7 linked regions of the Homo sapiens genome follow. The protein of the gene in region 2 interacts with the protein of the main gene of each other region in a pairwise test. Each region holds a gene or a part of one and is shown on either strand. Other genes may lie near its edges.

What was found.
Region 1: the proteins of GSN (region 2) and KCTD17 interact in binary tests that used the Homo sapiens proteins (3 or more experiments, as listed by UniProt).
Region 3: the proteins of GSN (region 2) and MAOB interact in binary tests that used the Homo sapiens proteins (3 or more experiments, as listed by UniProt).
Region 4: the proteins of GSN (region 2) and TMT1A interact in binary tests that used the Homo sapiens proteins (3 or more experiments, as listed by UniProt).
Region 5: the proteins of GSN (region 2) and AUNIP interact in binary tests that used the Homo sapiens proteins (3 or more experiments, as listed by UniProt).
Region 6: the proteins of GSN (region 2) and IQGAP3 interact in binary tests that used the Homo sapiens proteins (3 or more experiments, as listed by UniProt).
Region 7: the proteins of GSN (region 2) and SEMA4G interact in binary tests that used the Homo sapiens proteins (3 or more experiments, as listed by UniProt).

Annotation. Positions count from the first base shown.
Region 1 is NC_000022.11:37,058,242-37,061,741, reverse strand, and holds part of KCTD17 (BTB/POZ domain-containing protein KCTD17), read right to left. Parts: intron 2,430-3,500; coding exon 2,304-2,429; intron 920-2,303; coding exon 820-919; intron 639-819; coding exon 567-638; coding exon of another isoform or gene 204-566; coding exon 113-203; coding exon of another isoform or gene 1-112. UniProt on the Homo sapiens protein: Substrate-adapter for CUL3-RING ubiquitin ligase complexes which mediates the ubiquitination and subsequent proteasomal degradation of TCHP, a protein involved in ciliogenesis down-regulation.
Region 2 is NC_000009.12:121,323,662-121,327,161, forward strand, and holds part of GSN (gelsolin), read left to right. Parts: intron 1-892; coding exon 893-983; intron 984-2,850; coding exon 2,851-3,021; intron 3,022-3,500. UniProt on the Homo sapiens protein: Calcium-regulated, actin-modulating protein that binds to the plus (or barbed) ends of actin monomers or filaments, preventing monomer exchange (end-blocking or capping).
Region 3 is NC_000023.11:43,798,951-43,802,450, reverse strand, and holds part of MAOB (amine oxidase [flavin-containing] B), read left to right. Parts: intron 1-187; coding exon 188-279; intron 280-3,500.
Region 4 is NC_000012.12:50,928,015-50,930,511, forward strand, and holds part of TMT1A (thiol S-methyltransferase TMT1A precursor), read left to right. Parts: intron 1-1,899; coding exon 1,900-2,136; 3' UTR 2,137-2,497. UniProt on the Homo sapiens protein: Thiol S-methyltransferase that catalyzes the transfer of a methyl group from S-adenosyl-L-methionine to alkyl and phenolic thiol-containing acceptor substrates.
Region 5 is NC_000001.11:25,849,458-25,852,957, reverse strand, and holds part of AUNIP (aurora kinase A- and ninein-interacting protein), read left to right. Parts: intron 1-3,500. UniProt on the Homo sapiens protein: DNA-binding protein that accumulates at DNA double-strand breaks (DSBs) following DNA damage and promotes DNA resection and homologous recombination.
Region 6 is NC_000001.11:156,538,066-156,541,565, reverse strand, and holds part of IQGAP3 (ras GTPase-activating-like protein IQGAP3), read left to right. Parts: intron 1-649; coding exon 650-858; intron 859-1,575; coding exon 1,576-1,728; intron 1,729-2,028; coding exon 2,029-2,192; intron 2,193-2,532; coding exon 2,533-2,757; intron 2,758-3,500.
Region 7 is NC_000010.11:100,979,504-100,982,809, reverse strand, and holds part of SEMA4G (semaphorin-4G isoform 1 precursor), read right to left. Parts: intron 2,963-3,306; coding exon 2,818-2,962; intron 2,689-2,817; coding exon 2,466-2,688; intron 2,233-2,465; coding exon 2,117-2,232; intron 1,989-2,116; coding exon 1,813-1,988; intron 1,643-1,812; coding exon 1,581-1,642; intron 1,435-1,580; exon of another isoform or gene 1,348-1,434; coding exon of another isoform or gene 1,267-1,347; intron 1-1,266. UniProt on the Homo sapiens protein: Cell surface receptor for PLXNB2. May play a role in axon guidance.

The sequences.
Region 1 (3,500 bases), on a different chromosome or scaffold from region 2:
GAAACTTTGGTGGGTGGAGATAATCAGCCGAAAGCTCGGCTCAAGTCCAAGGATCAAGAGATGAGCACCCTCCTCGCTCCACCCCTCCCTCCAGCACCGCCAAGCTACAAACCAGGGATGGCAGCTCTGGGGGCGGGCGAGGGGCCGAGGAGAAGCCCTCACTGCAAGCTCAGCCTCAGGTCTGAGAGGGTGCGGACGGGAACCTGCAAGGAGGAAACGTGAGGAGGAGGCCGGGAGGAGAGGAGGGGGGGCAGGGCCTGCAGCCAGGGCCCAGTCTCAGAGGTGCCCGGCAGGGTTAGTGGGCACAGAGGAGGTGCAGCTGCGCCCCTCCTCCCCAGGCTGGGAGGCAGGAGGTACCAGAAGGGGCGCAGGAGGCGGCAGGCAGGACGCTCTGGGATGCAGGGCCAGGGGGCCTGGGTGGAGGGCACGGGAGGCTGGGACCAGGGCAGACCCGGGATGGAGGCGTGAGCAGGCAGAGAGAAAACCCGGACAGGGGCAGAGAGGGAAGAGGCAGGGTGCAGATGAGATCCAGGAGGAAGAAGAGGTGGATGAAGATGAGGCAGGACCTCCAGCGGGAAGCGGAGGAGGAGGCAGTGGTGGGAGGGAGAAAAGGTTAGCGGGATCCTGAGATGACTGGGCTGCAAAGAGAAAGTGAGAGAAGGGATGGTTATGCGGGTGAGGCGCCAGGCAAGTGGCTGAGCTAACCCTGGTGCCCCCCCAGCAGCCCCGGGGCCCCCGGTTCTGCAGCTGGCTCCAGCAAGGAGTGGGCGGGAGGCTCCGGCTTTGCTTAGCAATCATCCTCCTGGGGGTTGGCTGCACCTTTCTCCTGTGCATCTGCCTCCACCTGCACCTGTTCCACCTCCACCTCCTCCACCTCCTCCTCCTGCTGCTGCTGCTCCTCCAGCTGCTCCTCCGTGCTCTGTGAACCAGCCGGCGGACCCAGGGAAGAAAGAGTGGAGACACTAACAGAGGGGCCAGGGCCTGCTGGCTATCCCCAAAGACCCGGTCTCAGGCAAGGTGAAAGGGACCTCAGGAGAGGGGAGGGCTCCAGCCACAGAAGCTGGGGGCATCTTCTCCGGTCCCCTGGGCAGCTTGGGGAGGGCCTGGGGAAAGCAGCTGAGGATGGGATGCTGTGGGCATGCTCCGGGGTCAGCCTGGCTGCTGTTACATAGAGCGAGGCTGGAGGGAGGGGATGAAGCAGAACAGGGAGGGTGTGGGACTGGGGTATCCCTGAGGGGTGCCTGGGAAGGCCTTGTTTGGAAAGACTGCTCCTCAGTAGAAATGTGGCCAAGGAAGCCCCAGGGCAGACACCACCCAGATCTGGGATGCCAGCCAGTCTCTGACACCCCAGGTCCAGGGGCTTTGGCCCAAAGAGGCAGAAGGAGCAGTCTCGCTCTGCACCCTTGCAGGGCAGCGTCAGCCCTGGCAGTGGTGGGGGTGGGTGGGCAGGCAGGGTGCGTCACAGCAGGACAGGGAGGCAGACAGATAGACAGGAAGCCAGAGGTAAGCCTCCACTGTGTGGGGTTGGGCCCCAGGAGGAGCAGCCTGCCTTCTTCCCAGCCTGGTTCACGCCTGCTCTGTGGCTCTGCGAAGGCCCTTGGGACTTCCCACAGCACTGGGTCCAGGATGGCAGGACCCCCGCTCAGCCCTCTCCCCACAGTGGTACAGTGGATGCTGCCAGGGTGCTCTCAGGAGGCTGCCTCAACAGGCCAGGCGGACACACAGGACTGGCAGCCACCAGGCTGCCCCTATCCTGCAGAGCAGCCAAGGAGGGGGCCTGGGAAAGGGGCAGGATTTACAGCGGTGGCTTCCTCATCCTGGCTCAGGCCAGCTGGGGACATGCACCTGTCCCTGGGGAATAAACGGCCATTTGGGATCCCAGAAGTTCCAGGCTCCAAGGCACTACAAAGAGTATGTGATCCTCCCCTCTCACTTCAGAGAGTGCAGCAAAGGTGCTGGGAGAGGACAAGCCCTGTCCTAAGTCACACAGAGAGTGCCACACTGTGCCCTGACCCCTAGTCCATGCCACAGTGCCCAGTGGCCACTAAGCGGCCCCCTTCATGTAGCCTCTGAGTCCACGCCGGCTGCACCCTGGGGATGCTCTCATTTCACTGCTCCCAGCCTGGGCCTGGGTAACGGCAGGTGGCATGGGATGGATGGCGGTGGCTGTGAGCATGGGGTTGTGCATGGGCGGTGGCGGGAGAGAGGTGGAGGGATGGTGCAGGCGCAGGGGCGGGACAGGCGGGGAGGGTGGAGGGAGACAGGAGACTTCTCCGGACACAGGCTGAGGCGGGTGGGCTCACCTTGGTTTTGCGGCTGGACTCTGAGCTCAGCCCGTTTGGGGTGCTGTGGAGCTCCTTGGACACCACACACAGGAACTCTGCCTGGTCCTCGCTGCCGTAGTTGTAGGAGGAGCCGATGTTCACCAGCTAGAGGGGCGGAGCATGGGGAGAAAAATGCAGGTTGGTGTTGGGGGCCGTGGGGCAGGATACGACAGACCTCGGCACTCAAATCAAGATACCAGCTCAGGTCCTAATCTTGCGGCTTGTCGGGCCCACTCCTGGGTTTGTAGAGGGCACCTCTGGGCAGGAAGGTGGAGTCTTCCCCCTTGCAACCTGTGCCTGTGGTCTGTGCCCCAGGACCAGCCCCTCCGCCTGGCTTGGCTGGCCCGATCCCTGGTGGAGGGTGGCAGCATTACCGCTGTCCCCACCACCACCTCCAGCCTAGCCCCAGAGCCAGGGGGCCCTTTTCTAAATGCAGGCGGAGGCCTCTAAAGGGCGGCTGTCCCCCATTCCAGATGTGGCTGACACAGCCCCAGGACAAGGTTGCAGGGTGGCATTGGCAAGGTGGAGCCCCACAGAATATTCCCTTCACTCCTGGAAGCAGAGGTGGGACGACAGGTGGTCCACTCCTGAGACCAAAGGGCAAATGACCAATGGTCCCTGGCCTGCTTGCTCAGCCTCTGAGAGCCTGTGCAATTGCCAAAGACACCCAGAGGCTCTCAGAGTGGCCCTGCCCTTGTTCCAGGGTCCCTAGAATAACCACGCCCACAGAGCCCTTCTGGCTAAGAAATAAGAAAGTTCTTCCAGGTGATGAGTCTCATTCAGCTCTCAGGGACCCTGAAGAGAATCTCAGGCCTGCTGAAGGCCTCACAGCTAGGAAGGGGTGGAGCAGGGAATGGCATCGGGGATCCCAAGTCCTCTCTGAGTGTTGCAGACTTCAATATGGATTTCTAATGATTTGCATGACACTAATGCCAACATAGGGAGTCCTACGGAGGGCTGTAAGCTTTACTGATGGCCCTTCTAATCTCACAAGAGTCCTACAGAGGAGGTACTGTTAGCCCACTTCACCGATGAGGGAACTGGGTCCCGCACAGGAGATGTAACTTGCCCAAGGTGGCAGGCATGTCTGTGGCAAGGCCTAGAGGTGAAGCCAGGCCTCTGGCTCTGCACTAGGCCCATTCTTCCATCCCTCCAGGCCATCCTGGGGGCTCCGAC
Region 2 (3,500 bases):
GCCCGGCCCCCACTACTGTTCTTTTCCTGATCTAGGATCTAACCCAGGATCCCACATGGCATTTACTCATCATGTCTCCAAAGTCTCTGAATCTATGGCAGTTGCCCGGTCTTTCCTTTTTTTCATGCCCTTAACACTTTTAAAGGGTACTAGTCAGTTATTTTGTAGAATGTCTCTCAATTTGACAACCCCAGACATTTAAAAACAGCTTAATTTTTTTTTTGACTAGATAACACATTCACCTGGTACAAAATGTGTGAGAAGACTGTTTTAAAAATTAGCTGCATCAGCGCATTAATAGGTCAGATTTTGTTTGCTTATACGACGACATATGTTGGTTATGGAAAACTTAGACAATATGCAAAGAGGTGGGATAGAAAGGCAAAATCCCCCTAAATCTTCCCTCTAAGAGCAATCACCATGGACCTTTTTGGTGAACATCTGTGCAGACCTCTCTGCACGTGTTCATGGGAGGCTTAATCACTGACATCTTTTCCCACAAATAGGCTCTCGTAACACTTGCTATTCTGCGACCTGCTTTTCCGCCCAGAGAAATGTCCTGGCCACTTTTCTGCATCTCAGATTTGAGTCTCAGAGCATCTTCTCTGTGGCTGTTCAGCATGGGATGACCCAGCCAGTCTCCTGTGGGACACATTTAGCATAAGGAAATCCATGCGTTGCACTAAGATCTCTGTAAGCGGGCAAGATGCTAGGCTGAGAGTGGAAGTGTTGGTGTGGTTCCTGGCTCTCGTTGTTCTGAAAGAGTCCCCTTCCCTCTCTATCTGTTTCATTACTGGTAACAGGGAGATGTGTAGGTTTCTCAGACTCAGGGCAAGGGAGAGGCTCAGGGCTCTGTGTGCACCCTGATGCTGAATCTCACTTCCCCTTCCAGGCAGGGTGCCCAGTCTACCCAGGATGAGGTCGCTGCATCTGCCATCCTGACTGCTCAGCTGGATGAGGAGCTGGGAGGTACCCCTGTCCAGGTGAGCCCAGCCCACCGCCTCTCTGGGCTGCAGCCTGAGCCTTGTCCTTCTCTTCACTCATCTGTCTGACTCTCATCCATCCATTCGTTTGTCCATCTGTCTGTCTGTCCATCCATCCATCCATCCATCCATCCATCCATCCATCCATCCATGGAACAGGTATTTATTTAGGGCTTCCATGTGTTCCACACTGCATCTGTAGCCATGGACACACAGACACACTGTCCCTGCCCTAGTGGACTTTGCTGTCTTGGGTGGTAGTAGACATTCAACACACAGGCACACCAATGGCTATGACAGATGCAGTGAGTGAAATTGACAAGACCTTGGGAGAGAGACATGGGAGAGGCCATGTGGCTGAGCACGGATGTGGAACCAGCATGCTTGGGTTTGAATCCTGTCCTCACCTCTGGGCAACGTTGGGCAAGTCACTTAGCCTCTCTGTGCCTCTGTGTCCTCAAAATAGGGGTAATAACAGTACCATCCCACAAGATTGCTGTGAGGATTAAGAGTTAACATTTGTAAGCATTTAGAATCATGCCTGCCATATAAGAAGTGCCCCCTTATACATATGTGTTAAGTACAAGGAGGTAAATCCTAGGTAGGATCCTATTGGATTAGAAAAGCCCACCCCTGTCCCAGGAGGGGACTGTTCAACTGGGACCTGATGCACGTGTAGGAGTTGCCCAGGCAGAGTGAAGGAAAGCACATTGTGGGTAAAGGGTGGTACACATGCAAAGGCCCTGAGGTGGGAGGGGGCATTGGGTGTTAAAGCAAGGGGAAAATGCCATGATTTGAGGCTAGAGAGGTGCTCAGAGGGGCCAGACCACCAGAGGCCATAGTGACGATGTTGACCTTGATGCTGAGAACAACAGGAAGTTGCTGAATGATAAGTCTGAGGTGTAGGGATTTCTGGTTTAAAAAGTCACTCTGGCCAGGCGCTGGAGGGCAGCAGAGCTGGTTTGTGGAAATATAGGGGAAGCGGACAACAACTGTGCTTCCTCCGTCCTACGGTGGGAGTGGGCAGGGCTCTAGATTGGCATCGGGGGTTCGTGCCCTGACCTTTGACTATGATAGACTGGGTGCTGGGCACTAAATGAGATGATGACCATCTTAGCTCAGTGCATCCTGACAACAGCCTTGGGAGTAGCATCCTTGGCTGCATTTTTCAGAGGAGGAACTCAAGAGGTTGAGACACGTGCCCAAGTTCTCACCATCAGGGTGGAGTTGGGGTCTAAGCCCTAACTCAGCGGTGGTGGGTCGTGGTGGGAAGCGACTGCCATATGCCTGACGTACATGTGAGGTTTTCTTCTGGACATAGTTAGCCGGGGCCACGGTAAGGTGCCGCACACAGGGCAGGAGCAGATGTGAGGGTGTACATCTTCCCTGCCTCACTCCCACCACCAAGCCCCTGACTGCTGCCCGCATCTGGGGTGCACTGGCTCTGCAGGAGGGGGTTTTCTGGATCTAGAATGCTCTGTTCTTACCACTCCACCAGCAGTCATGCCCAGGCCTGACGTCAGCATTCTGGAAGAATGTCCACCAGCAATCCCTGTGCTTCTATTTAAGGGAACATTTGCAAACACAGGCTCTCCTGGTTCTTGGACCAGGCTGAGGATCAGGAAGGCATGTCGTCATGGAGATGGAGAGCAGCCCAGCAGCAGTGCCCTGGGGACCTCAGACAATAGCACTGTCTCCACCCTTCCTGGAATTCTGGTGTCCCTGCCTGTGTGTTGTCGGGTCACATTCCATGCCACACACAGACACAAGCATGATGGCTTCGTCTGGAGGGATGGGCCCAGTGCGACATAGAAGGACTGAAGCCTGCCCCCAAGGTCCCTGACTTGCTCTCCTGTCTCCCTGCCAGAGCCGTGTGGTCCAAGGCAAGGAGCCCGCCCACCTCATGAGCCTGTTTGGTGGGAAGCCCATGATCATCTACAAGGGCGGCACCTCCCGCGAGGGCGGGCAGACAGCCCCTGCCAGCACCCGCCTCTTCCAGGTCCGCGCCAACAGCGCTGGAGCCACCCGGGCTGTTGAGGTAATTTCCAGGTCCTGGAACACAGAAGGGATTGGCCTCCCTGAAACCTCCCAGCTCAATGACCAGATCTCCAGGCACAGGAACGGGGGCAGGGGATGGTGAATGACGGGGTAAGAAGCAGCTTTTTGTATTTTCCTGCCGTGGCCACAGGGTTGTCTGTCTTAGACTCCCCCCTGTTTCAAGGATACCCAGTGTCCCTTGCACACTTTGCACAGTGGACAGCTCACTACCTACCATTCTGTACAATCAGCATGCCATTCCTGATTACGTTCCAGTTGCCTACTATCCCTTTCACGGAGGAAGGCACAGATCTGGACTTGATTCCCAGGATGGTCTGAGCAGCCTAGAGGGGAATGGGACTCTCACCTCCTTTGTTCTGGGCATTCAACTTCTGTTAATGCAGCCCTGATTTTTAGAATCATGTTGGCTAGTCACAGTGCATTAGTGACTCATGGGAGTCAACCAAGGCCATCAGGGTC
Region 3 (3,500 bases), on a different chromosome or scaffold from region 2:
TAGACAGCATTGATTATGCAGTAAAAGCAATATTGGATGAATTTGGAAAACTTAACATTTTTCCTCTTTAAGGTAGAGTTTTTAATACTATTTGAATAGTTATTTAAAGTGGAAAATTACAAAAATGAATAAAATAAAAGAGAAAATTACATTTGTCTTTCTCCTTCGAATCCTCATCTGAATGTAGATTCCGAGTGATGCCCCATGGAAGGCTCCCCTTGCAGAAGAGTGGGACAACATGACAATGAAGGAGCTACTGGACAAGCTCTGCTGGACTGAGTAAGTCTTGCCATTAGGCACAGGCATTTACTGTGACCACCTTTTAGGTTTATTTAGCAATACCGTTCAACAAGTATGGGACAAGTAGCTGCTTTGTGTCTAAAACCACACCACCAGCCAGTGGCATGCTGAAAACCATTGGAATTGGCTCCTACCCTGAAGATATCTGTACATACAACTTACTTCTTTGGAGTAGTTTTGTATCACAAAGGTGGTATTACCCTGTGAAGTCCTCAGAACAGACCAGAAGGTACCACTTTCTTTATCTGAAACAGCTTAAAGACCATCAGCTTAAAGCTCTCATTTATTAAGTTGTTGATATAGGACAATTTTTGTATTCTTCACTGGTGGTCAAATGTGGAGATGGTTAGCATGTGCATTTGCCACACCTTGTGTGAAGTAGTGCAATTCTTCAAGGACTTAAAGAGGAACCTCTAAAGCCTTTGTGTAGATAGGTCACAACTACAGGGGAAACATGTGTGACTGGACTGGCTGTTCCCCTTTAGTGAAAAAACAAGTACCTATGAGTTAAGCATTAAATTCTTGTTGGCAGAACTGGGAACTGTAGAGAAATTGTGAAGGCTTGTATAGACAGACCACATGGAGAGGCCACACTGCTCTTGGACAGCAGGGAAAATGGAAAGGATTATGAGGGTTCCCATTCAAGCACGTGGTAAATTTGTGGTAAACAAAATAAGAGAAATGGAAGCCAAATTCAAGGAGACTGCCCTGTCTTGCTAAAGAGCATTAGTTGAGAATATGTTTGGCTCGGGGGTTAATGTCTTCATTTTTAGGCATTCATTCACTGCCAACTAAAAGTAAAAACAAGCTTTTAGAATATCTGAATCTTAAAAATGGAAATAATCAAAAGACATAAAATTCATATATTTTTCATATAAAAATTCAGCTTCTAATAATTTAGCTTTAAGAAAGTGAGGCAAAAGAAGAGAGAGGCACCAGCATGGCACATGTATACATATGTAACTAACCTGCACAATGTGCACATGTACCCTAAAACTTAAAGTATAATAATAAAAAAAAAAAAGAAGAGAGAGGCATACAGGGAGAGAAGGAGAGAGGGAGAGGGAGAAACAGTGAAAGAGGCAGATTCAAAGCATTATTTTTAAAAGGGAGGATCTGAAAGCCCAATAGTAGAAGATCGGCAGAATCAAGTATGGAACATCTAAAAAATTGAGTACTTGAGGGTTTTAAAAAATCGTGTTGTAGAGGAATATTTAATGACTGGAAAAAATAGTAATATTAAACACATAGAAAAGCAGGCTATTGTGGTATGGTATATGATCTCATTTCTAAAAACAACTATTTATATATGCACTGCAAAAGCAATGGACATCCATTGAAGTATTTTTAACGTTTAATATTACCATGCAAACATTTATTTTTAAAATGTTTAAAAACTTTACATCATTAAAAATTATTCTTTAAACATCATATTTCATGGTACCAGAATATTCCATGGGAAATGAATACGTAATGTATTTGTCCATTATCATCCTGTTGAACACATTGGTTACTTTCTGTTTTTTGTTATTATCATTATACAATACTCTATAATAAACATCTTTATGCCTCTCCTGTGTTTTCAACCTTTGAAAGCAACCAGTTCTGGAATAGTAAAATCCTTTTATGTCATGAAATCAATGCGTGTTATTAATTATATTCTTTTAAACATTTACCTAATGCTATCTAACACCTCTATGAGAATGTAGTTTGCAATATAATTTATTTTAATAGTAATAAAATTGTAGTATTTAGTTTTAAATTATATACTTTAGATTTTCAAAATATAATAAGTATGTAATTATCTGCATTTGTTTTATAACTCCTGTTATGAAAAGCTTTTAATAAATTCAGTTAGGTCTTCTCTCCTCAGAGAACTTTTAAGTTTCTTGGTGATAAAATCAATCATATGTTTTTGGGATCACAGGGACCCGACATTTTCTATCGTAGCCCTTGGCCTAGTCCTCCACTTAGTGAATATTCTAAGTTGTCATTTGACAAAATAAAGCATTCTGAGATACTAGGAGTATAAGAACACAAGACAATTTTCCAACTCTTCCCAAGCAAGATACACACAGTATTATTTCCTGGATTTAAATGAAGTAATCCCCAGAATATCCAACCTATTGTTGTTCAAACTAAAGCACAATCATACATTCCAAGACTAATGTTGATTATTCTTTCAGTTATTATCATTTACAAAGTGCACTTCACAAACATGAATTGTATTTTCAATGTGATCACAGCTATGTAAAAACATTTTTTAAAAGACCTATACTTAGAAAAAAATGCATCAAAATGAGACTAGTAATTATCTTCTGGAGGGGCAGAAATATGGAAGACACTCGTTCTCTCATCCTTTTATCTTATAAATTTTCCAAATTTTATATAATGTGTATGTATTTTTCATGTAGAAAAATATTATAACATTTATCTTTTAAAAAGTCAACAGGGCAAAAAATACGGAAATATTGCACTAACTTCCTTGACCTTCCATCCTTCAAATATTGTTCTTATTTCTTTTCTTACTGAAGCTCCTAGAGTAAATTCAAATAAAGGATTAGGAATGGACTGGCCCTTCAGAATTACTTTTAGATCTCCCTTTATTTCAAACCAGAATTATTTCTTTCCCACCAAATTGCCAACAATAACAACTAGAATTCCAGCAATATTTTTGTTAAATATTGGCTCTCCAGCTGGGCCAATGTTAGGTTTCAGTTATTTATTACTCCCTTTACTGTATGCCCCTCAATCCACCTAAAAAATAAGGAAGAAAAGAAATAGGATTTTAGGAAGCAACAAATAAAATACTACTTTTATTTTAAATTGACGTCTGGATATGTGTTTTAGTTAGATATTACAAATTGCCTCTGCAAGGAAGGCATGAGCTAGCAATTTCCATCCCTTCAATTATCCTGAGAAATCTTACAAAACTAACTGTAAGTCGCTTTAATGTATATATGACACCATTTCACAGGCTGTAATGATGGGGACTGTCATAGACGGGCTGTCAGGTTGTTACAGCTGCAAATAATGTCAATAATTGGTATGTGTGTTAGGCATGATTCTACAAACTTCTAGGGTCAAGATACAGTAAAGTAGAGAGATGCCCCTTGGTGAGTAGCTGCACTTCCAAGGCTGTCAGCTGACTAATTAGAAAACATTTTGAGGTATCAAAAGCACGAGTTTTGCGTCAAGTA
Region 4 (2,497 bases), on a different chromosome or scaffold from region 2:
GGGTTTCACCATGTTGGCCGGGCTGGTGTCCAACTTCTGGCCTCAAGTGATCCACCCACCTTGGCCTCCCAAAGTGGTGGGATTACAGGTGTGAGCCACCGCGCCCAGCCAAATGCAAATGCAAATATTCTTACCACTGTACCACAGTGCTTGTTATTGGGGTTTTCATCTTTCTGATTTCAACATTGCTATCACTCTTGCTGGCTCTTCTTCCTCTACCCATCTCCTACCACTGGGGTTCCTTTCTTGGTGACACAGGATTTTTGCTCCTTAGCTCAGCTAGGTCCAGGTTCTTGTCTCACATTCAGGAAGAAATAGGCACGTGAACATGGAAGAGTGAGTGGAGTAGAATTTATCAAGCGAAACAGAAAGCTCTCAGCAAAAAGAGGGGTCCTGAAAACAGGTTGCTGGTTGCCCCCTTCGCAACTGAAAAGCTGATGGAGCTGGATTCCCTGTTTGTAAAGGCATGAATTCCTGGTGGCTCCACCCCATTCCCCCAGCGTGCATGTGGGGCCTTAGTGGGCTGCAGGCATGTTTAGGCAAGCCCCTGTGCAAGTTCCCTTATCTGCACAAAACATCTCATGTAACCATTTGTGGGACTGGTCAGAAGTTCTTCCGGGACCCTTCCCTACTGTCTGCCTAAAGCAAGCTGGCTAACTCCTTTCATTGGTTCATTTCACTTATATACACTCCCCAGCAATCTCATATACCTCCACAGTTCTCAAATACCACATATATACAGATGTTTCCAAATCTAAACATCTATCCCAGGTCTCTCTTCTGACCCCAAACCTTCATATCCAGCCGTCTACTCAACAGTCTCCTGGATTGCTCAGAGGCACCTCTTAACATATGTAAACCAGAGGGCAACACTGACCTCCCCAAACCTGCCTCTCCTCCTTTATGCTGCCCTATCCTATGAAGATTTTTTTTAAAATCAGGGCCGGGCACGGTAGCTCACGCCTGTAATCCCAGCACTTTGGGAGGCCTAGACAGGAGGATCACTTGAGCTCAGGAGTTCGAGACCAGCCTGGGCAATGCGGCGAAACTCTGTCTCTATAAAAAAAAAAATTAGCTGGGTGTAGTGGTGTGCACCTGTTGTCCCAGCTACTTGGGGGGCTGAGGCAGTAGGATTGCTTGAGCCCAGGAGGCAGAGGTTGCAGTGAGCTGAGACTGTGCCACTGCATTCCATCCTGGGTGACAGAGCCAGGCCCTGTCTCAAGAAATAATAAATGAATAAATAAATCAGGAAATTCCAATTTTTCTATTCGTAACATAGGTCTTACACTGACCCATATAATTTGGGGAAACTCCATCACTAAACTGAATTCTCTCTCTAAACTCTGCCTGAGGAGCCAAGACTAGGATAACTAGAGGAGGCCAAGAAGAGTGGTGCAGTTACCACAATTTTGTGAGGTGACTGTCTGGTCCCTTGCTCCTTACTCCCCTCAGAGGTAGATATGTAGAAAACTTCTGAAGATGTCCCCACACATAACATGTAATAACATCTATTGTGCCTGTACTTGATCAACATTTATAAAACTCCTCAATGAAAGCAGCAGTTGCTAATTCCTACAAAGAGTAATTTACATTTAGCATCCACTGACTGAATAAAATACCTAATGACAAAATGTTACCTTGAATTCAGTAATGATTTTAGATGAATCAGAATTTTCATTAATCATATCACGTACATATTTGTGAAAATGGCACAAAAATTTAAAACATGGTTATTCAGTCTCAAGGGTGTGCTTAGTGTGGAGTGACCCTCCTGCTCAGAACTCTACGGTTCTCTCACAGGTTTGCAAGGCAGTGCCAGAGAACAATTTTCAAAAAATAAATTAAAAAAGCAGAAATGAAAAAATCCTTGAAATGTTTTTTTTTTTCTTTCTTTCTCAGGGAGGGGCTTTCTATTTCATGGAGCATGTGGCAGCTGAGTGTTCGACTTGGAATTACTTCTGGCAACAAGTCCTGGATCCTGCCTGGCACCTTCTGTTTGATGGGTGCAACCTGACCAGAGAGAGCTGGAAGGCCCTGGAGCGGGCCAGCTTCTCTAAGCTGAAGCTGCAGCACATCCAGGCCCCACTGTCCTGGGAGTTGGTGCGCCCTCATATCTATGGATATGCTGTGAAATAGTGTGAGCTGGCAGTTAAGAGCTGAATGGCTCAAAGAATTTAAAGCTTCAGTTTTACATTTAAAATGCTAAGTGGGAGAAGAGAAACCTTTTTTTTGGGGGGCGGTTTTTTTGGTTTGTTGTTGGTTTTTTTTTTTTTTTTGGCGGGAAGAAAGAGTTTTGCTCTTGTTGCCCAGGCTGGAGTGCAATGACGTGATCTCCGCTCACTGCAACCTCCACCTCGCGGGTTTAAGCGATTCTTCTGCCTCAGCCTCCCTAGTAGCTGGGATTACAGGTGCCCACCACCATGCCCAGCTAATTTGTATTTTTAGTTGAGACAGGGTTTCACTACGTTGGCCAGGCTGGTCTTGAACTCCTGATCTC
Region 5 (3,500 bases), on a different chromosome or scaffold from region 2:
CAGAAGAAAAAGTAGAAAATCCACAAATAGGTTGAAATTAAACAGCACATTTCTAAATAACCAAGAGTCAAAGAAGAAATCAAAAGGAAAATTATAATAGAAAGTACTTTGAGATAAATGAAAACAAAAATATAATGCACCAAGATTTATGGGATGCAACTAACACTATGCTTAGAGGGATATGTATAGCTGTAAATGCTTTTATTAAAAAGAATCTCGGCCAGGCGCAGTGGCTCACACCTGTAATCCCAACAGTTTGGGAGGCTGAGGTGGGTGGATCACCCGAGGTCAGGAGTTTAAGACCAACCTGGCCAACACGGCGAAACCCTGTCTCTACTAAAAATACCAAAATTAGCTGTGCGTGGTGGCAGGCGCCTGTAATCCCAGCTACTCAGGAGGCTGAGGCAGGAGAACTGCTTGAACCCAGGAGGCGGAGGTTGCAGTGAACTCCAGCCTGGGCAACAAGAGTGAAACTCCTGTCTCAAAAAAAAAAACAACAAAAAAAAAAACCTTAAATAATCTAATCTTCTACCTTAAGAAACTAGAAAAAGAAGAGCAATCTAAACCCATAGTGACCAGAAGGAAGGAAATAATACAATTTAGAGTGAAAATAAATAGTAAAGAAAAACAATCAACATCAAAAGTTGGTTCTTTGCAAAGATCAACAAACTCAACACACCTTTAGCTAGACTGATCAAGAATAAAAGAGAGCACAGTGGCTCACACCTATAATCCCAGCATTTTAGGAGGCTGAGGTGGGAGGATCCCCTGAACCCAGGAGTTCAAGACCAGCCTGGGCAACATAGGGAGACCCTATCTCTACCAAAAAATACAAAAATTAGCCTGATGTGGTGGTACATGCCTGTAGTTCCAGCTACTCAGGAGGCTGAGGTGTAAGGATCACTGAACCCAGGGAGGTTGAGGCTGCACTGAGCGGTGATTGAGCCACTGCACTCCAGCCTGGGTAAGAGAGTGACACCCTGTCTCAATCAGTCAGTCAGCAAGAGGCCAGGTGAGGTGGCTGAAAAAACCCTATCTCTACTAAAAATACAGAAATTAGCCAGTTATGTTGGTGTGTGCCTGTAGTCCCAGCTACTCGGGAGGCTGAGGCAGGAGAATCACTTGAACCCGGGAGACAGGTTGCAGTGAGCCGAGATTGTGCCACTGCATTCCAGCCTGGGCGACAGAGTGAGACTGTCTAAAAAAGAAAATAAAGAGATAAAAATAATTAGAATACTATAAACAACTGTATGCTAACACATTTAGATAACTTAGATGAAATGGACAAATTCCTAGGAAGTCACAGACTACCAAACTTGCCTCAAGAAGAAATAGATAAAAATCAACTGACTGTAAATGTAAGGGTTTACTTCTGGACTTTCAGTTCAATTCCTTTGGTCTATAGACCTATAACGAAGAGATTGAATTAGTAATTTTAAAACTTCCTGCAAAGAAAAGTCCAGGTCCAGATAGTTTCTCTGGTGAATTCTACCAAACATTTAAAGAATTATACCAATCCTTCAGACTCTCTCAAAAAAATAGAATAGAAGAGGAGGGAACACTTTCCAACTCATTTTGAGGCCAGTATTACTCTGATACTAAAACTAGACCAAGATATCACAAGAAAAGGAAATTATGGTCTGGTATCCTTTATGAATACAGATACAAAAATACTCAACAAAATACAAGCAAAACAAATTTAGCAACACATAAAAAGGATTATAAATCATGACCAAGAGGAATTTATCTTAGGAATGCAAGGTTGGTTTAAATTTGAAAACCAATTAATATACCATACTAATAGCATAAAAGACAAAAACCACATAATCATGTCAATAGACACAGAAAAAGCATTTTGACTGACATCATTTTGTGATTAAAACACTCAACAGACCAGGAATAAAAGGGAATTTTCTCAGCCTCACAAAGGGCATCTATGAAAACCCAGTTAACATCATACTTAATGGAAGAAGACTGAATGTTTCCACTCCTAAATCAGCAACAAGACAAAGATCTTGCCACTCTGTTTACCATTGCACTAGAGATTTTATGCAGGGAAATTTAGCAAGAAAAAGAAATAAAAGATACCCAGATTAAAAAGGAAGAAGTAAAATTATCTGTTTGCAGAAAATATGATCTTATGTGTAGAAAATCCTAAGGAATCCACTTAAAAAAATTAGAAAAAATGAGTTCAGCAGTGTGACAGGATACAAAAATCAATTGTACTTCCGTATGGTAGGATTTTATCCAAAAAATGAAACTAAGGAAATAATTTCATTTACAATAGAATCAAATAGAATAAAATACTTAGGCATAAATTTAACAAAACAGTGCAAGACATACACTGGAAACTATAAAACTCATTGAAAGAAATTAAAAATGTAAATAATGGAAAGACATTACATGTTCATTGATCAGAAGACTTAAGATAGGAATATGCCCCAATTGATCTACAGAATCAGTGCAGTCCTTATCAACATCTCAGTTGTCCTTTTTGCAGATACTGACAGTCTGATCCAGAAATTCATGACATCCGAGGGATCTAGAAAAGCCAAAACAAGCTTGAAGAGTAACAAAGTTGGAGGAATCACATGTACTGATTTCAAAATTACTATACAGTTACAGTACTTAAGATGGTTTGATACTGTCATAAAGGTAGACACATTATAGATCAAAGGAATTGAAAGTCCAGAAGTAAACCCTTGTATTTATGGTCAGTTGTTTTGTTGTTGTTGTTGTTGTTGTTTTTAGAATCAGGGTCTCAATTTGTTACCCAGACTGGAGTGCTATGATCACACCCAGAGTGCTGATGTGATCATAGCTTTATTGAGATATGATTCATATACCATAAAATTTGCCCATTTAAGTATGTACCCCCGAGAGATAGGAAAACGTATGTCTGCACAAAAACTTGCACACAAATGTTCTTAGCAGCGTTTCTCATAATAGCCAAAAAGTGGAAACAATCCAAGTAGTCATCAACTGATGAACATCAACTGGTAAACAAAATGGTATATCTAGGGTTGAGTGCAGTGGCTCACGCCTGTAATCCCAGCACTTTGGGAGGCTGAGATGGGGCAGATCACTTGAGGTCAGGAGTTCAAGACCAGCCTGGCCAATATGATGAAACCCCGTCTCTACTAAAAAAATACAAAACTTAGCCAGGCATGGTGGCAGGCACCTGTAATTCCAGCTGCTCAGGAGACTGAGGCAGAAGAATTGCTTGAACCCAGGAGGCAGAGGTTGCAGTGAGCCAAGATTGCGTAGCTGCACTCCAGCCTAGGTGACAGAATAAGACCCTGTCTCAAACAAACAAACAAAATAACACAAAATGGTATATCTATATAATGGAATATTATTTGGCAATAAAAAAGAGTGAAGTATTGATACATGCTACAACATGGATGGACCTCCAAGCATTAGGCTCAGTGAAAGAAGCCAGTCACAAAAGACCAGATATTGTATGACACATAAAAGGCCCAGAATAGGCAAATCTGTAG
Region 6 (3,500 bases), on a different chromosome or scaffold from region 2:
TCTGTCTCATAGTAAACATTCTATGTATTAGTTGTTTTGTTGTTATTTCCAATAAATTAGCTCAGAGGCTTCTTTCTTTTTTGCTCAAATGCCAATTCCAAAGGTGATTCAAGGAGAATCACCAGCTAGCTCTGACCTCCCCTAAATTATAAAGCCCACTGTCCATCCCGTCTACCTGTCCTTCCCGGTGTGTACAGACATTCCTGACAGAGGAGCACTGTGGGAGCAAGCAGGGCTGAGTGGTGGCTGGCAGGTAGGAGGAGGAGGAGGAGCAGGTTGGCCCAGCAGAAGTGAGTGGTAGATTGGGGTAGACTAGGGAGGTCTGGGAGGATAATCAGAGGGAGCTGTGGCTCTGGCTTTGGTGTCAGAGGTCCCTGGGATAGACCCAGGCTGGGGTGAATCAGAGGCATGGGAAGAGCAGCTATTATGTCATCTCCAGTTATAAGACAGGAAGCTCAGGGACAGGCCTGGCTAGAAGGCTACCCACTGCCCTCCAAGTGCAAGCAGAACCAGTTAGAAGAGGACTGGGGTTGGGGACCTGCTGATCCCAAGCAGAACGGGGACTGGGGTGGGCTGACTCGGGCAGGGGCTGGTGAGGAGGCCTCTGATGAGGCATGGCTAATCCTGATGCCTCCTCCCTTCCTCCCAGTGCATGCACCCCACCCTCCTCTCAGTGTGGTACGCAGATTTGCCCATCTCTTGAATCAAAGCCAGCAAGACTTCTTGGCTGAGGCAGAGCTGCTGAAGCTCCAGGAAGAGGTAGTTAGGAAGATCCGATCCAATCAGCAGCTGGAGCAGGACCTCAACATCATGGACATCAAGATTGGCCTGCTGGTGAAGAACCGGATCACTCTGCAGGTATGGGGCCCACCAGTCCTCCCCTCCCCGAGATCTGCCTGCCTCTGGAGATGTGATGCTGACCATTCTCTGCTTGCTAATCAATTTTTTTCAAAATGTTGTGGATTTTGTCACCTGACTCAGGTCCTTGTTCCAGTGGCCCTCTGCCATTCTAATAAATCATTTTGGGGGACCCATGACAGAGTAGAAAGAGCATGAAACCTAGAATCAGAATGCCTGGCTCTGCTGATTCCCAGGGATGGGGCTGTGGGTGCTCATTTCACTTCTAAGTCTGTTTTCTCATTAGCAAACTGAGAATAATGAGAATGTCCACCTCTCCAGGCCAAATATAGAGACAGATATGAAAGCTGTTTAAATCATAAATTACCATATAAATATGCAGTGACAGGGTAATAGTGATATAGTGATAGCTCCACCTCAAATGTGTGTAGCAGTCTAATAAGAAGAGATAGCAAAAGCCAAATAGACACAATTCCTCAGCCTGGCAAACCAGTTCTCTTTGGGGACTCACTCCCATGACAGGAGAGGAAACAGATGGAGTCTCAGGGCACTTGGAGGGGCCCTTCCTCACCCTAGAACTGCTTCTGTCCCCCAGCTTATGCCTGTTCCTTGAACAGCAGAAAGCCCTGGCTCTTCAAGGCACTGATTCTAGACCGTATGTTCTGTGCCCTGGGATGGCCTAGGCTAGTTGTATCACCCGCTCCTCCACCCCTGCAGGAAGTGGTCTCCCACTGCAAGAAGCTGACCAAGAGGAATAAGGAACAGCTGTCAGATATGATGGTTCTGGACAAGCAGAAGGGTTTAAAGTCGCTGAGCAAAGAGAAACGGCAGAAACTAGAAGCATACCAACACCTCTTCTACCTGCTCCAGGTTAGCAGAGGACTTTCCAAGGAGAAGTCTCTCCCGTCTCCTGAGGGTCTGAGACTTCAAGGCCTTCTTGTCTGTGCGTTTGGCACCATGCAAGGTGTCCTTTCCCATAATCTTAATTCCTTATCCCCAGGAAAGGAGACTACCTCTTCCCCTGTTTGTCTGGAATGTTACTAGCACCTGGAGAAAGTGTGGTAGTGCTTTCTCCATTCCAGATTTCCATCAGGGGAAAGCCTTTCCTTATCCTATCACTGGTCCTTGAAGTGCATGGTCAGCCATTCCTGTCTCCCCTCTTGCTTGCAGACTCAGCCCATCTACCTGGCCAAGCTGATCTTTCAGATGCCACAGAACAAAACCACCAAGTTCATGGAGGCAGTGATTTTCAGCCTGTACAACTATGCCTCCAGCCGCCGAGAGGCCTATCTCCTGCTCCAGCTGTTCAAGACAGCACTCCAGGAGGAAATCAAGTAGGCTCTCCAGACACAAAGGAATGGGGAGAGAATGGGTTAAGAGATCCCCCTGTTGGCTCCTTCACAAGGTGACAACTTGTTGAGGCCTAAGGGTAGAAATGGAATCAGAAGACCTCTTTTCTCTACCTCCTGTGGAGAAACCGTAAAACATCTGGGACAGCACAGTGGGAGGATATGGGCTGACATGCTAACACAAAGGATGAGAGAGATATCAAGACATTCCTTAAGAGCGGGGACACCAGGGCAGGCTTTGAGAGCCAAAATCTCAAAAAGGAAAAGCAACGGTATGTCCTACACAGAGGCAGAAGACTGGTTTCAATGACCTCTTAAACCACAGGTCAAAGGTGGAGCAGCCCCAGGACGTGGTGACAGGCAACCCAACAGTGGTGAGGCTGGTGGTGAGATTCTACCGTAATGGGCGGGGACAGAGTGCCCTGCAGGAGATTCTGGGCAAGGTTATCCAGGATGTGCTAGAAGACAAAGTGCTCAGCGTCCACACAGACCCTGTCCACCTCTATAAGAACTGGATCAACCAGACTGAGGCCCAGACAGGGCAGCGCAGGTGAGCACATGGGCAGAGGGAGGAGCTCTCTTTGATCAGCTGTGTCTTGATCAGCTGTGTCTTGGACCCTACTGGGGAAGCTTGGGTGTACTTTGAAGGTGGCATATAAATGGGCATGCTGATCTATGCAAATATGACACCAGCTTTGTAGGCATGAATAAGGTAGTCTTTTAGACCCCCTCTGATAATTAACATGAAACTGATGTAAATGACTTCAGACCTGGTGGGCTTAACATAAAATGAGTACAGATGAATATGCAAATGTGCTTAATTGCTATGTCAGTGCTTGCAAATGATGTGTCAAATTTGGTGGTAGTAGGGCCGGACATAGTGGCTCACGCCTGTAATCCCAGCACTTTGGGGGGCTCAAGGTGGGCAGATCACCTGAGGTCAGGAGTTTGAGACCAGCCTGGCCAACATGGTGAAACTCTATCTCTACTAAAAATGTAGGTCAGGCGTGGTGGCTCACGCCTGTAATCCCAGCACTTTGGGAGACCGAGGCAGGCGGATCACGAGGTCAGGAGATCGAGACTATCCTGGCTAACATGGTGAAACCCCATCTCTACTAAAAATACAAAAAATTAGCCGGGCGTGGTGGCAGGCACCTGTAGTCCTAGCTACTCGGGAGGCTGAAGCAGGAGAATGTCATGAATCTGGGAGGCAGAGCTTGCAGTGAGCCGAGATCGTGCCACTGCACTCCAGGCTGGGCGACAGAGCGAGACTCTGTCTCAAAAATAAAAAAT
Region 7 (3,306 bases), on a different chromosome or scaffold from region 2:
GTTTTGTTTTGTTTTTTTGAGACGGAGTCTCATTCTGTCGCCTAGGCTGGAGTGCAGTGACGTGATCTCAGCTCACTGCAACCTCCACCTCCCTGGTTCACGCGATTATCTTGCCTCTGGCTCCTGAGTAGCTGGGATTACAGGCATATGCCACCATGCCCAGCTAGTTTTTGTATTTTTAGTAGAGACAGGGTTTCACCATGTTGGCCAGGCTTGTCTCGAACTCCTGACCTCAAGTGATCCACTCGCCTTGGCCTCCCAAAGTGCTGGATTATAGGCATGAGCCACCGTGCCCGGCCCTTCTTCACGTTTGTATCTAACTGTCACTAAGATTCTGTTTCTGGCATCTATCTTAGACCTGTTGATTTCTCTCCTTCCATGACTCCTGGCCCACTCTGGCCCCATGTAATCCATTCTTCATGAGAGGTATTTTAAAAACACAAATCTGATCATGCCACTCTCCAGCCTAAAACTCTTCAGAGGTTTCCTATTGCTTTTCGGATAAAGACCAAAATCTTCAACATGGCCTTTGCCCACTTGTCCAGCCTATTCTCCTGTCACTCAAATGTGCCAGCCTCCCTCTGCCTGCTGCTCCCTCTGCTTGCATGTCACCCCATTACCCCATGTCCTCTGCTTGCCTGGCTAACTTGTGGGAGATAGCATAGTATAGTGACCAGAAGCACAAAGTCAAATCAGACTGCTTGGGGTCAGGTTTGAATTCTTTTTTCTTTCTTTTTTTTTTTTTTTGAGATGAGATGAGGTCTCACTCTGTTATCCAGGCTGGAGTGCAATGGTGTGATCTTGGCTCACTGCAACCTCTGCCTCCCAGGCTCAAGTGATCCTCCCACCTCAGCTTTCCAAGTAGCTGGGATTACAGACATGTGCCACCACACCCGGCTAATTTTTGTATTTTTTGTAGAGATGGGGTTTTGCCATGTTGCCCAGGCTGGTCTCCAATTCCTGAGCTCAAGCAATCCACCTACCTCAGCCTCCCGAAGTGCTGGGATTACAGGCGTGAGCCACTGTACTCAGCCAGGTTTGAATTCTGGTCCAGTTTCTTAATAGCTGAATAAGTTTGAGCAATTTACTTACACTCCCTGGGCTTCAGAGAGGTCCCTCATGGGGATAATAATAATGGCACCTTTCTCATAAGAATGCTGTGACAGTAGATGACATCATGCATAGAAGTATTTAGATCAGTGTCTGGCACACAGTAAATACTTAATACATCTTAGCTGTGATGATTAACTTTTGTTCTTTCTTCAGATATCAGTTCAGTCATCCGATCTTCCTTGGGGAAATACCCATTACCGTCCTGAACCCTTGTCATCCACTACTTGGCTATAAGCTCCAGAAGTGACAAGACACTTCACATCTTAAATATGTTTCCTAGTTTATAATTCATTTGGGCAGTAAATGTTTGTTGAGCACTTACTCTGTGCCAGGCTCTGTGTTTGAGTCATCCTTACCAAATGTACATAGCCACAGCCACTCAGATACAAACATATACGTACACATGGCAGTAAATGGCAAAGAGGACAGTCTGCGTAGCTAGACCCACACTCATATGAGTCACTTACCTGTATCCCTGCTGCTCTCACAGCCTCGATTTCCTCTCTCTATGTCCTGTATCAGTGCTGTCCTGGGACAGAAGATCAGGTTTTATGAACAAGGGGAACTGGGTTTCAGTTTCCCAGTGAAAGGGTAGATAGGTCTGTTACTAATAACTAGCCCCTGCACTCCCCCAGTAGCTATCAGGCCTTCCTCCTCCACTCAGACCACATGTGACTGTCACCCCCCACCACTTCCCACCTGCTTCCCTGGGACCTGTTGGCTATGGTGGTGGCTGCTGCGCAGGCATGGGTGCCAGGGTCCCAGCCACAGTAGGGGTCTCGGGCCAAGATGCAGTCATAGCAGGATCGGTAGCGGGAGCAGCTGGAGAGTGGTAGCTGGATGACTCCGCTAGGAGCCCCCACATAGAGGCTGTGCTGGGAGCCAGATAGGACAGTTGGTCGGCAGCGTCCCCACTCATACAGATACACAGCCTCTGCCCAACCTCCCCACTCCCTCTTCCTATTTCAGCAAGGCTATATTAAGGGTCACAGAGAAGGGCTACCTGCAATAGAGAGATGACTAGATTTTCCACAGACTGGGACTCCCTGAACACTTGTGTCTCTTCAATAATGTGCATCCCAGAGCCCAGGACTACGGCCTTGTGGATCCAGCCATCAGCTGGTATGGAAAGAGCAGAGAGTTAGACCCCAACTATGGGATCTGCTCTCAGCACCCTGCAAGAGGCCTAATACGAACAGCTCAGGAGTCCTGAGGTCCAGAACAAGGACTCAGCCAGGAGCAGTGGACCCTCAGGACACTGGGAACTCCAGACTAGTCATGGCAGGAATTAATGGATTCAGAAGCATTAGTGATCAGGGCCAACAGGGATCAGGGATTGGGATCAGAAGCACCTGTGCCCAGAAAGAGCAGGTCATAGGTAGGTCCAGCAGGCGTGGTGACAGGTGTCCCTGTAAGGTGTGTGTAGCGTATGTTGCGCTTGAGCAGCAGGGGCCGTCCACGTGTGGGCACAACGGGCCGAGCCATCAGTGGGTGCAACTTTACAAAGTCCAGGACCAGGGATGGCAAGTCTTGGGATGAATTGTAGCCTTGGCTGCGCAATGAATCTGTGATACACTGGCGTGGGGGACGAAGGTGGTGAACCTCGGGACTCCACCACCTGCCTGCCCTCTCCACAAGGCCAGACCCTTTGACCCTTCCCTGGGCTCTGTCTACTCAGCACTGGCCCCAGGCCTGGGCACTCACCGAGCCAGGCCGGGGCTCAGGCACCCCACCCTCATAGCGACCCCAGCGCCGGGAACCATCCTGGTATTCCATATAGGGTCCTGCAAAGACAGCCTGGATCTCTGCCAGGTCATAGCGGCAGATGGCTGAGGCCTCCAGGGTCTTCCTAGAATGGGACATAGGGCAAGGGGGGTGAGTTACATGGAGTCAAGCCTGCCCCCCAACTCGTGCTCAGCCTGAAGCTCACTGTTACCCTGGCCAACCCCAGCTATAGTCCCACAGGGCCTCTCCTGTGAGTCAGTGGACCACTGCATTCATTCTCTGGCTCTAGCCTAGCTTGATGTGCTTAAAATTCTCACTTTGCCAGCACTTTGAGAGGCCGAGGCGAGCAGATCACGAGGTCAAGAGATCGAGACCATCCTGGGCAACACAGTGAAACCCCATCTCTATTAAAAATACAAAAATTAGCCAGGCGTGGTGGCACACGCCTATAGTCCCAGCTACTCGGGA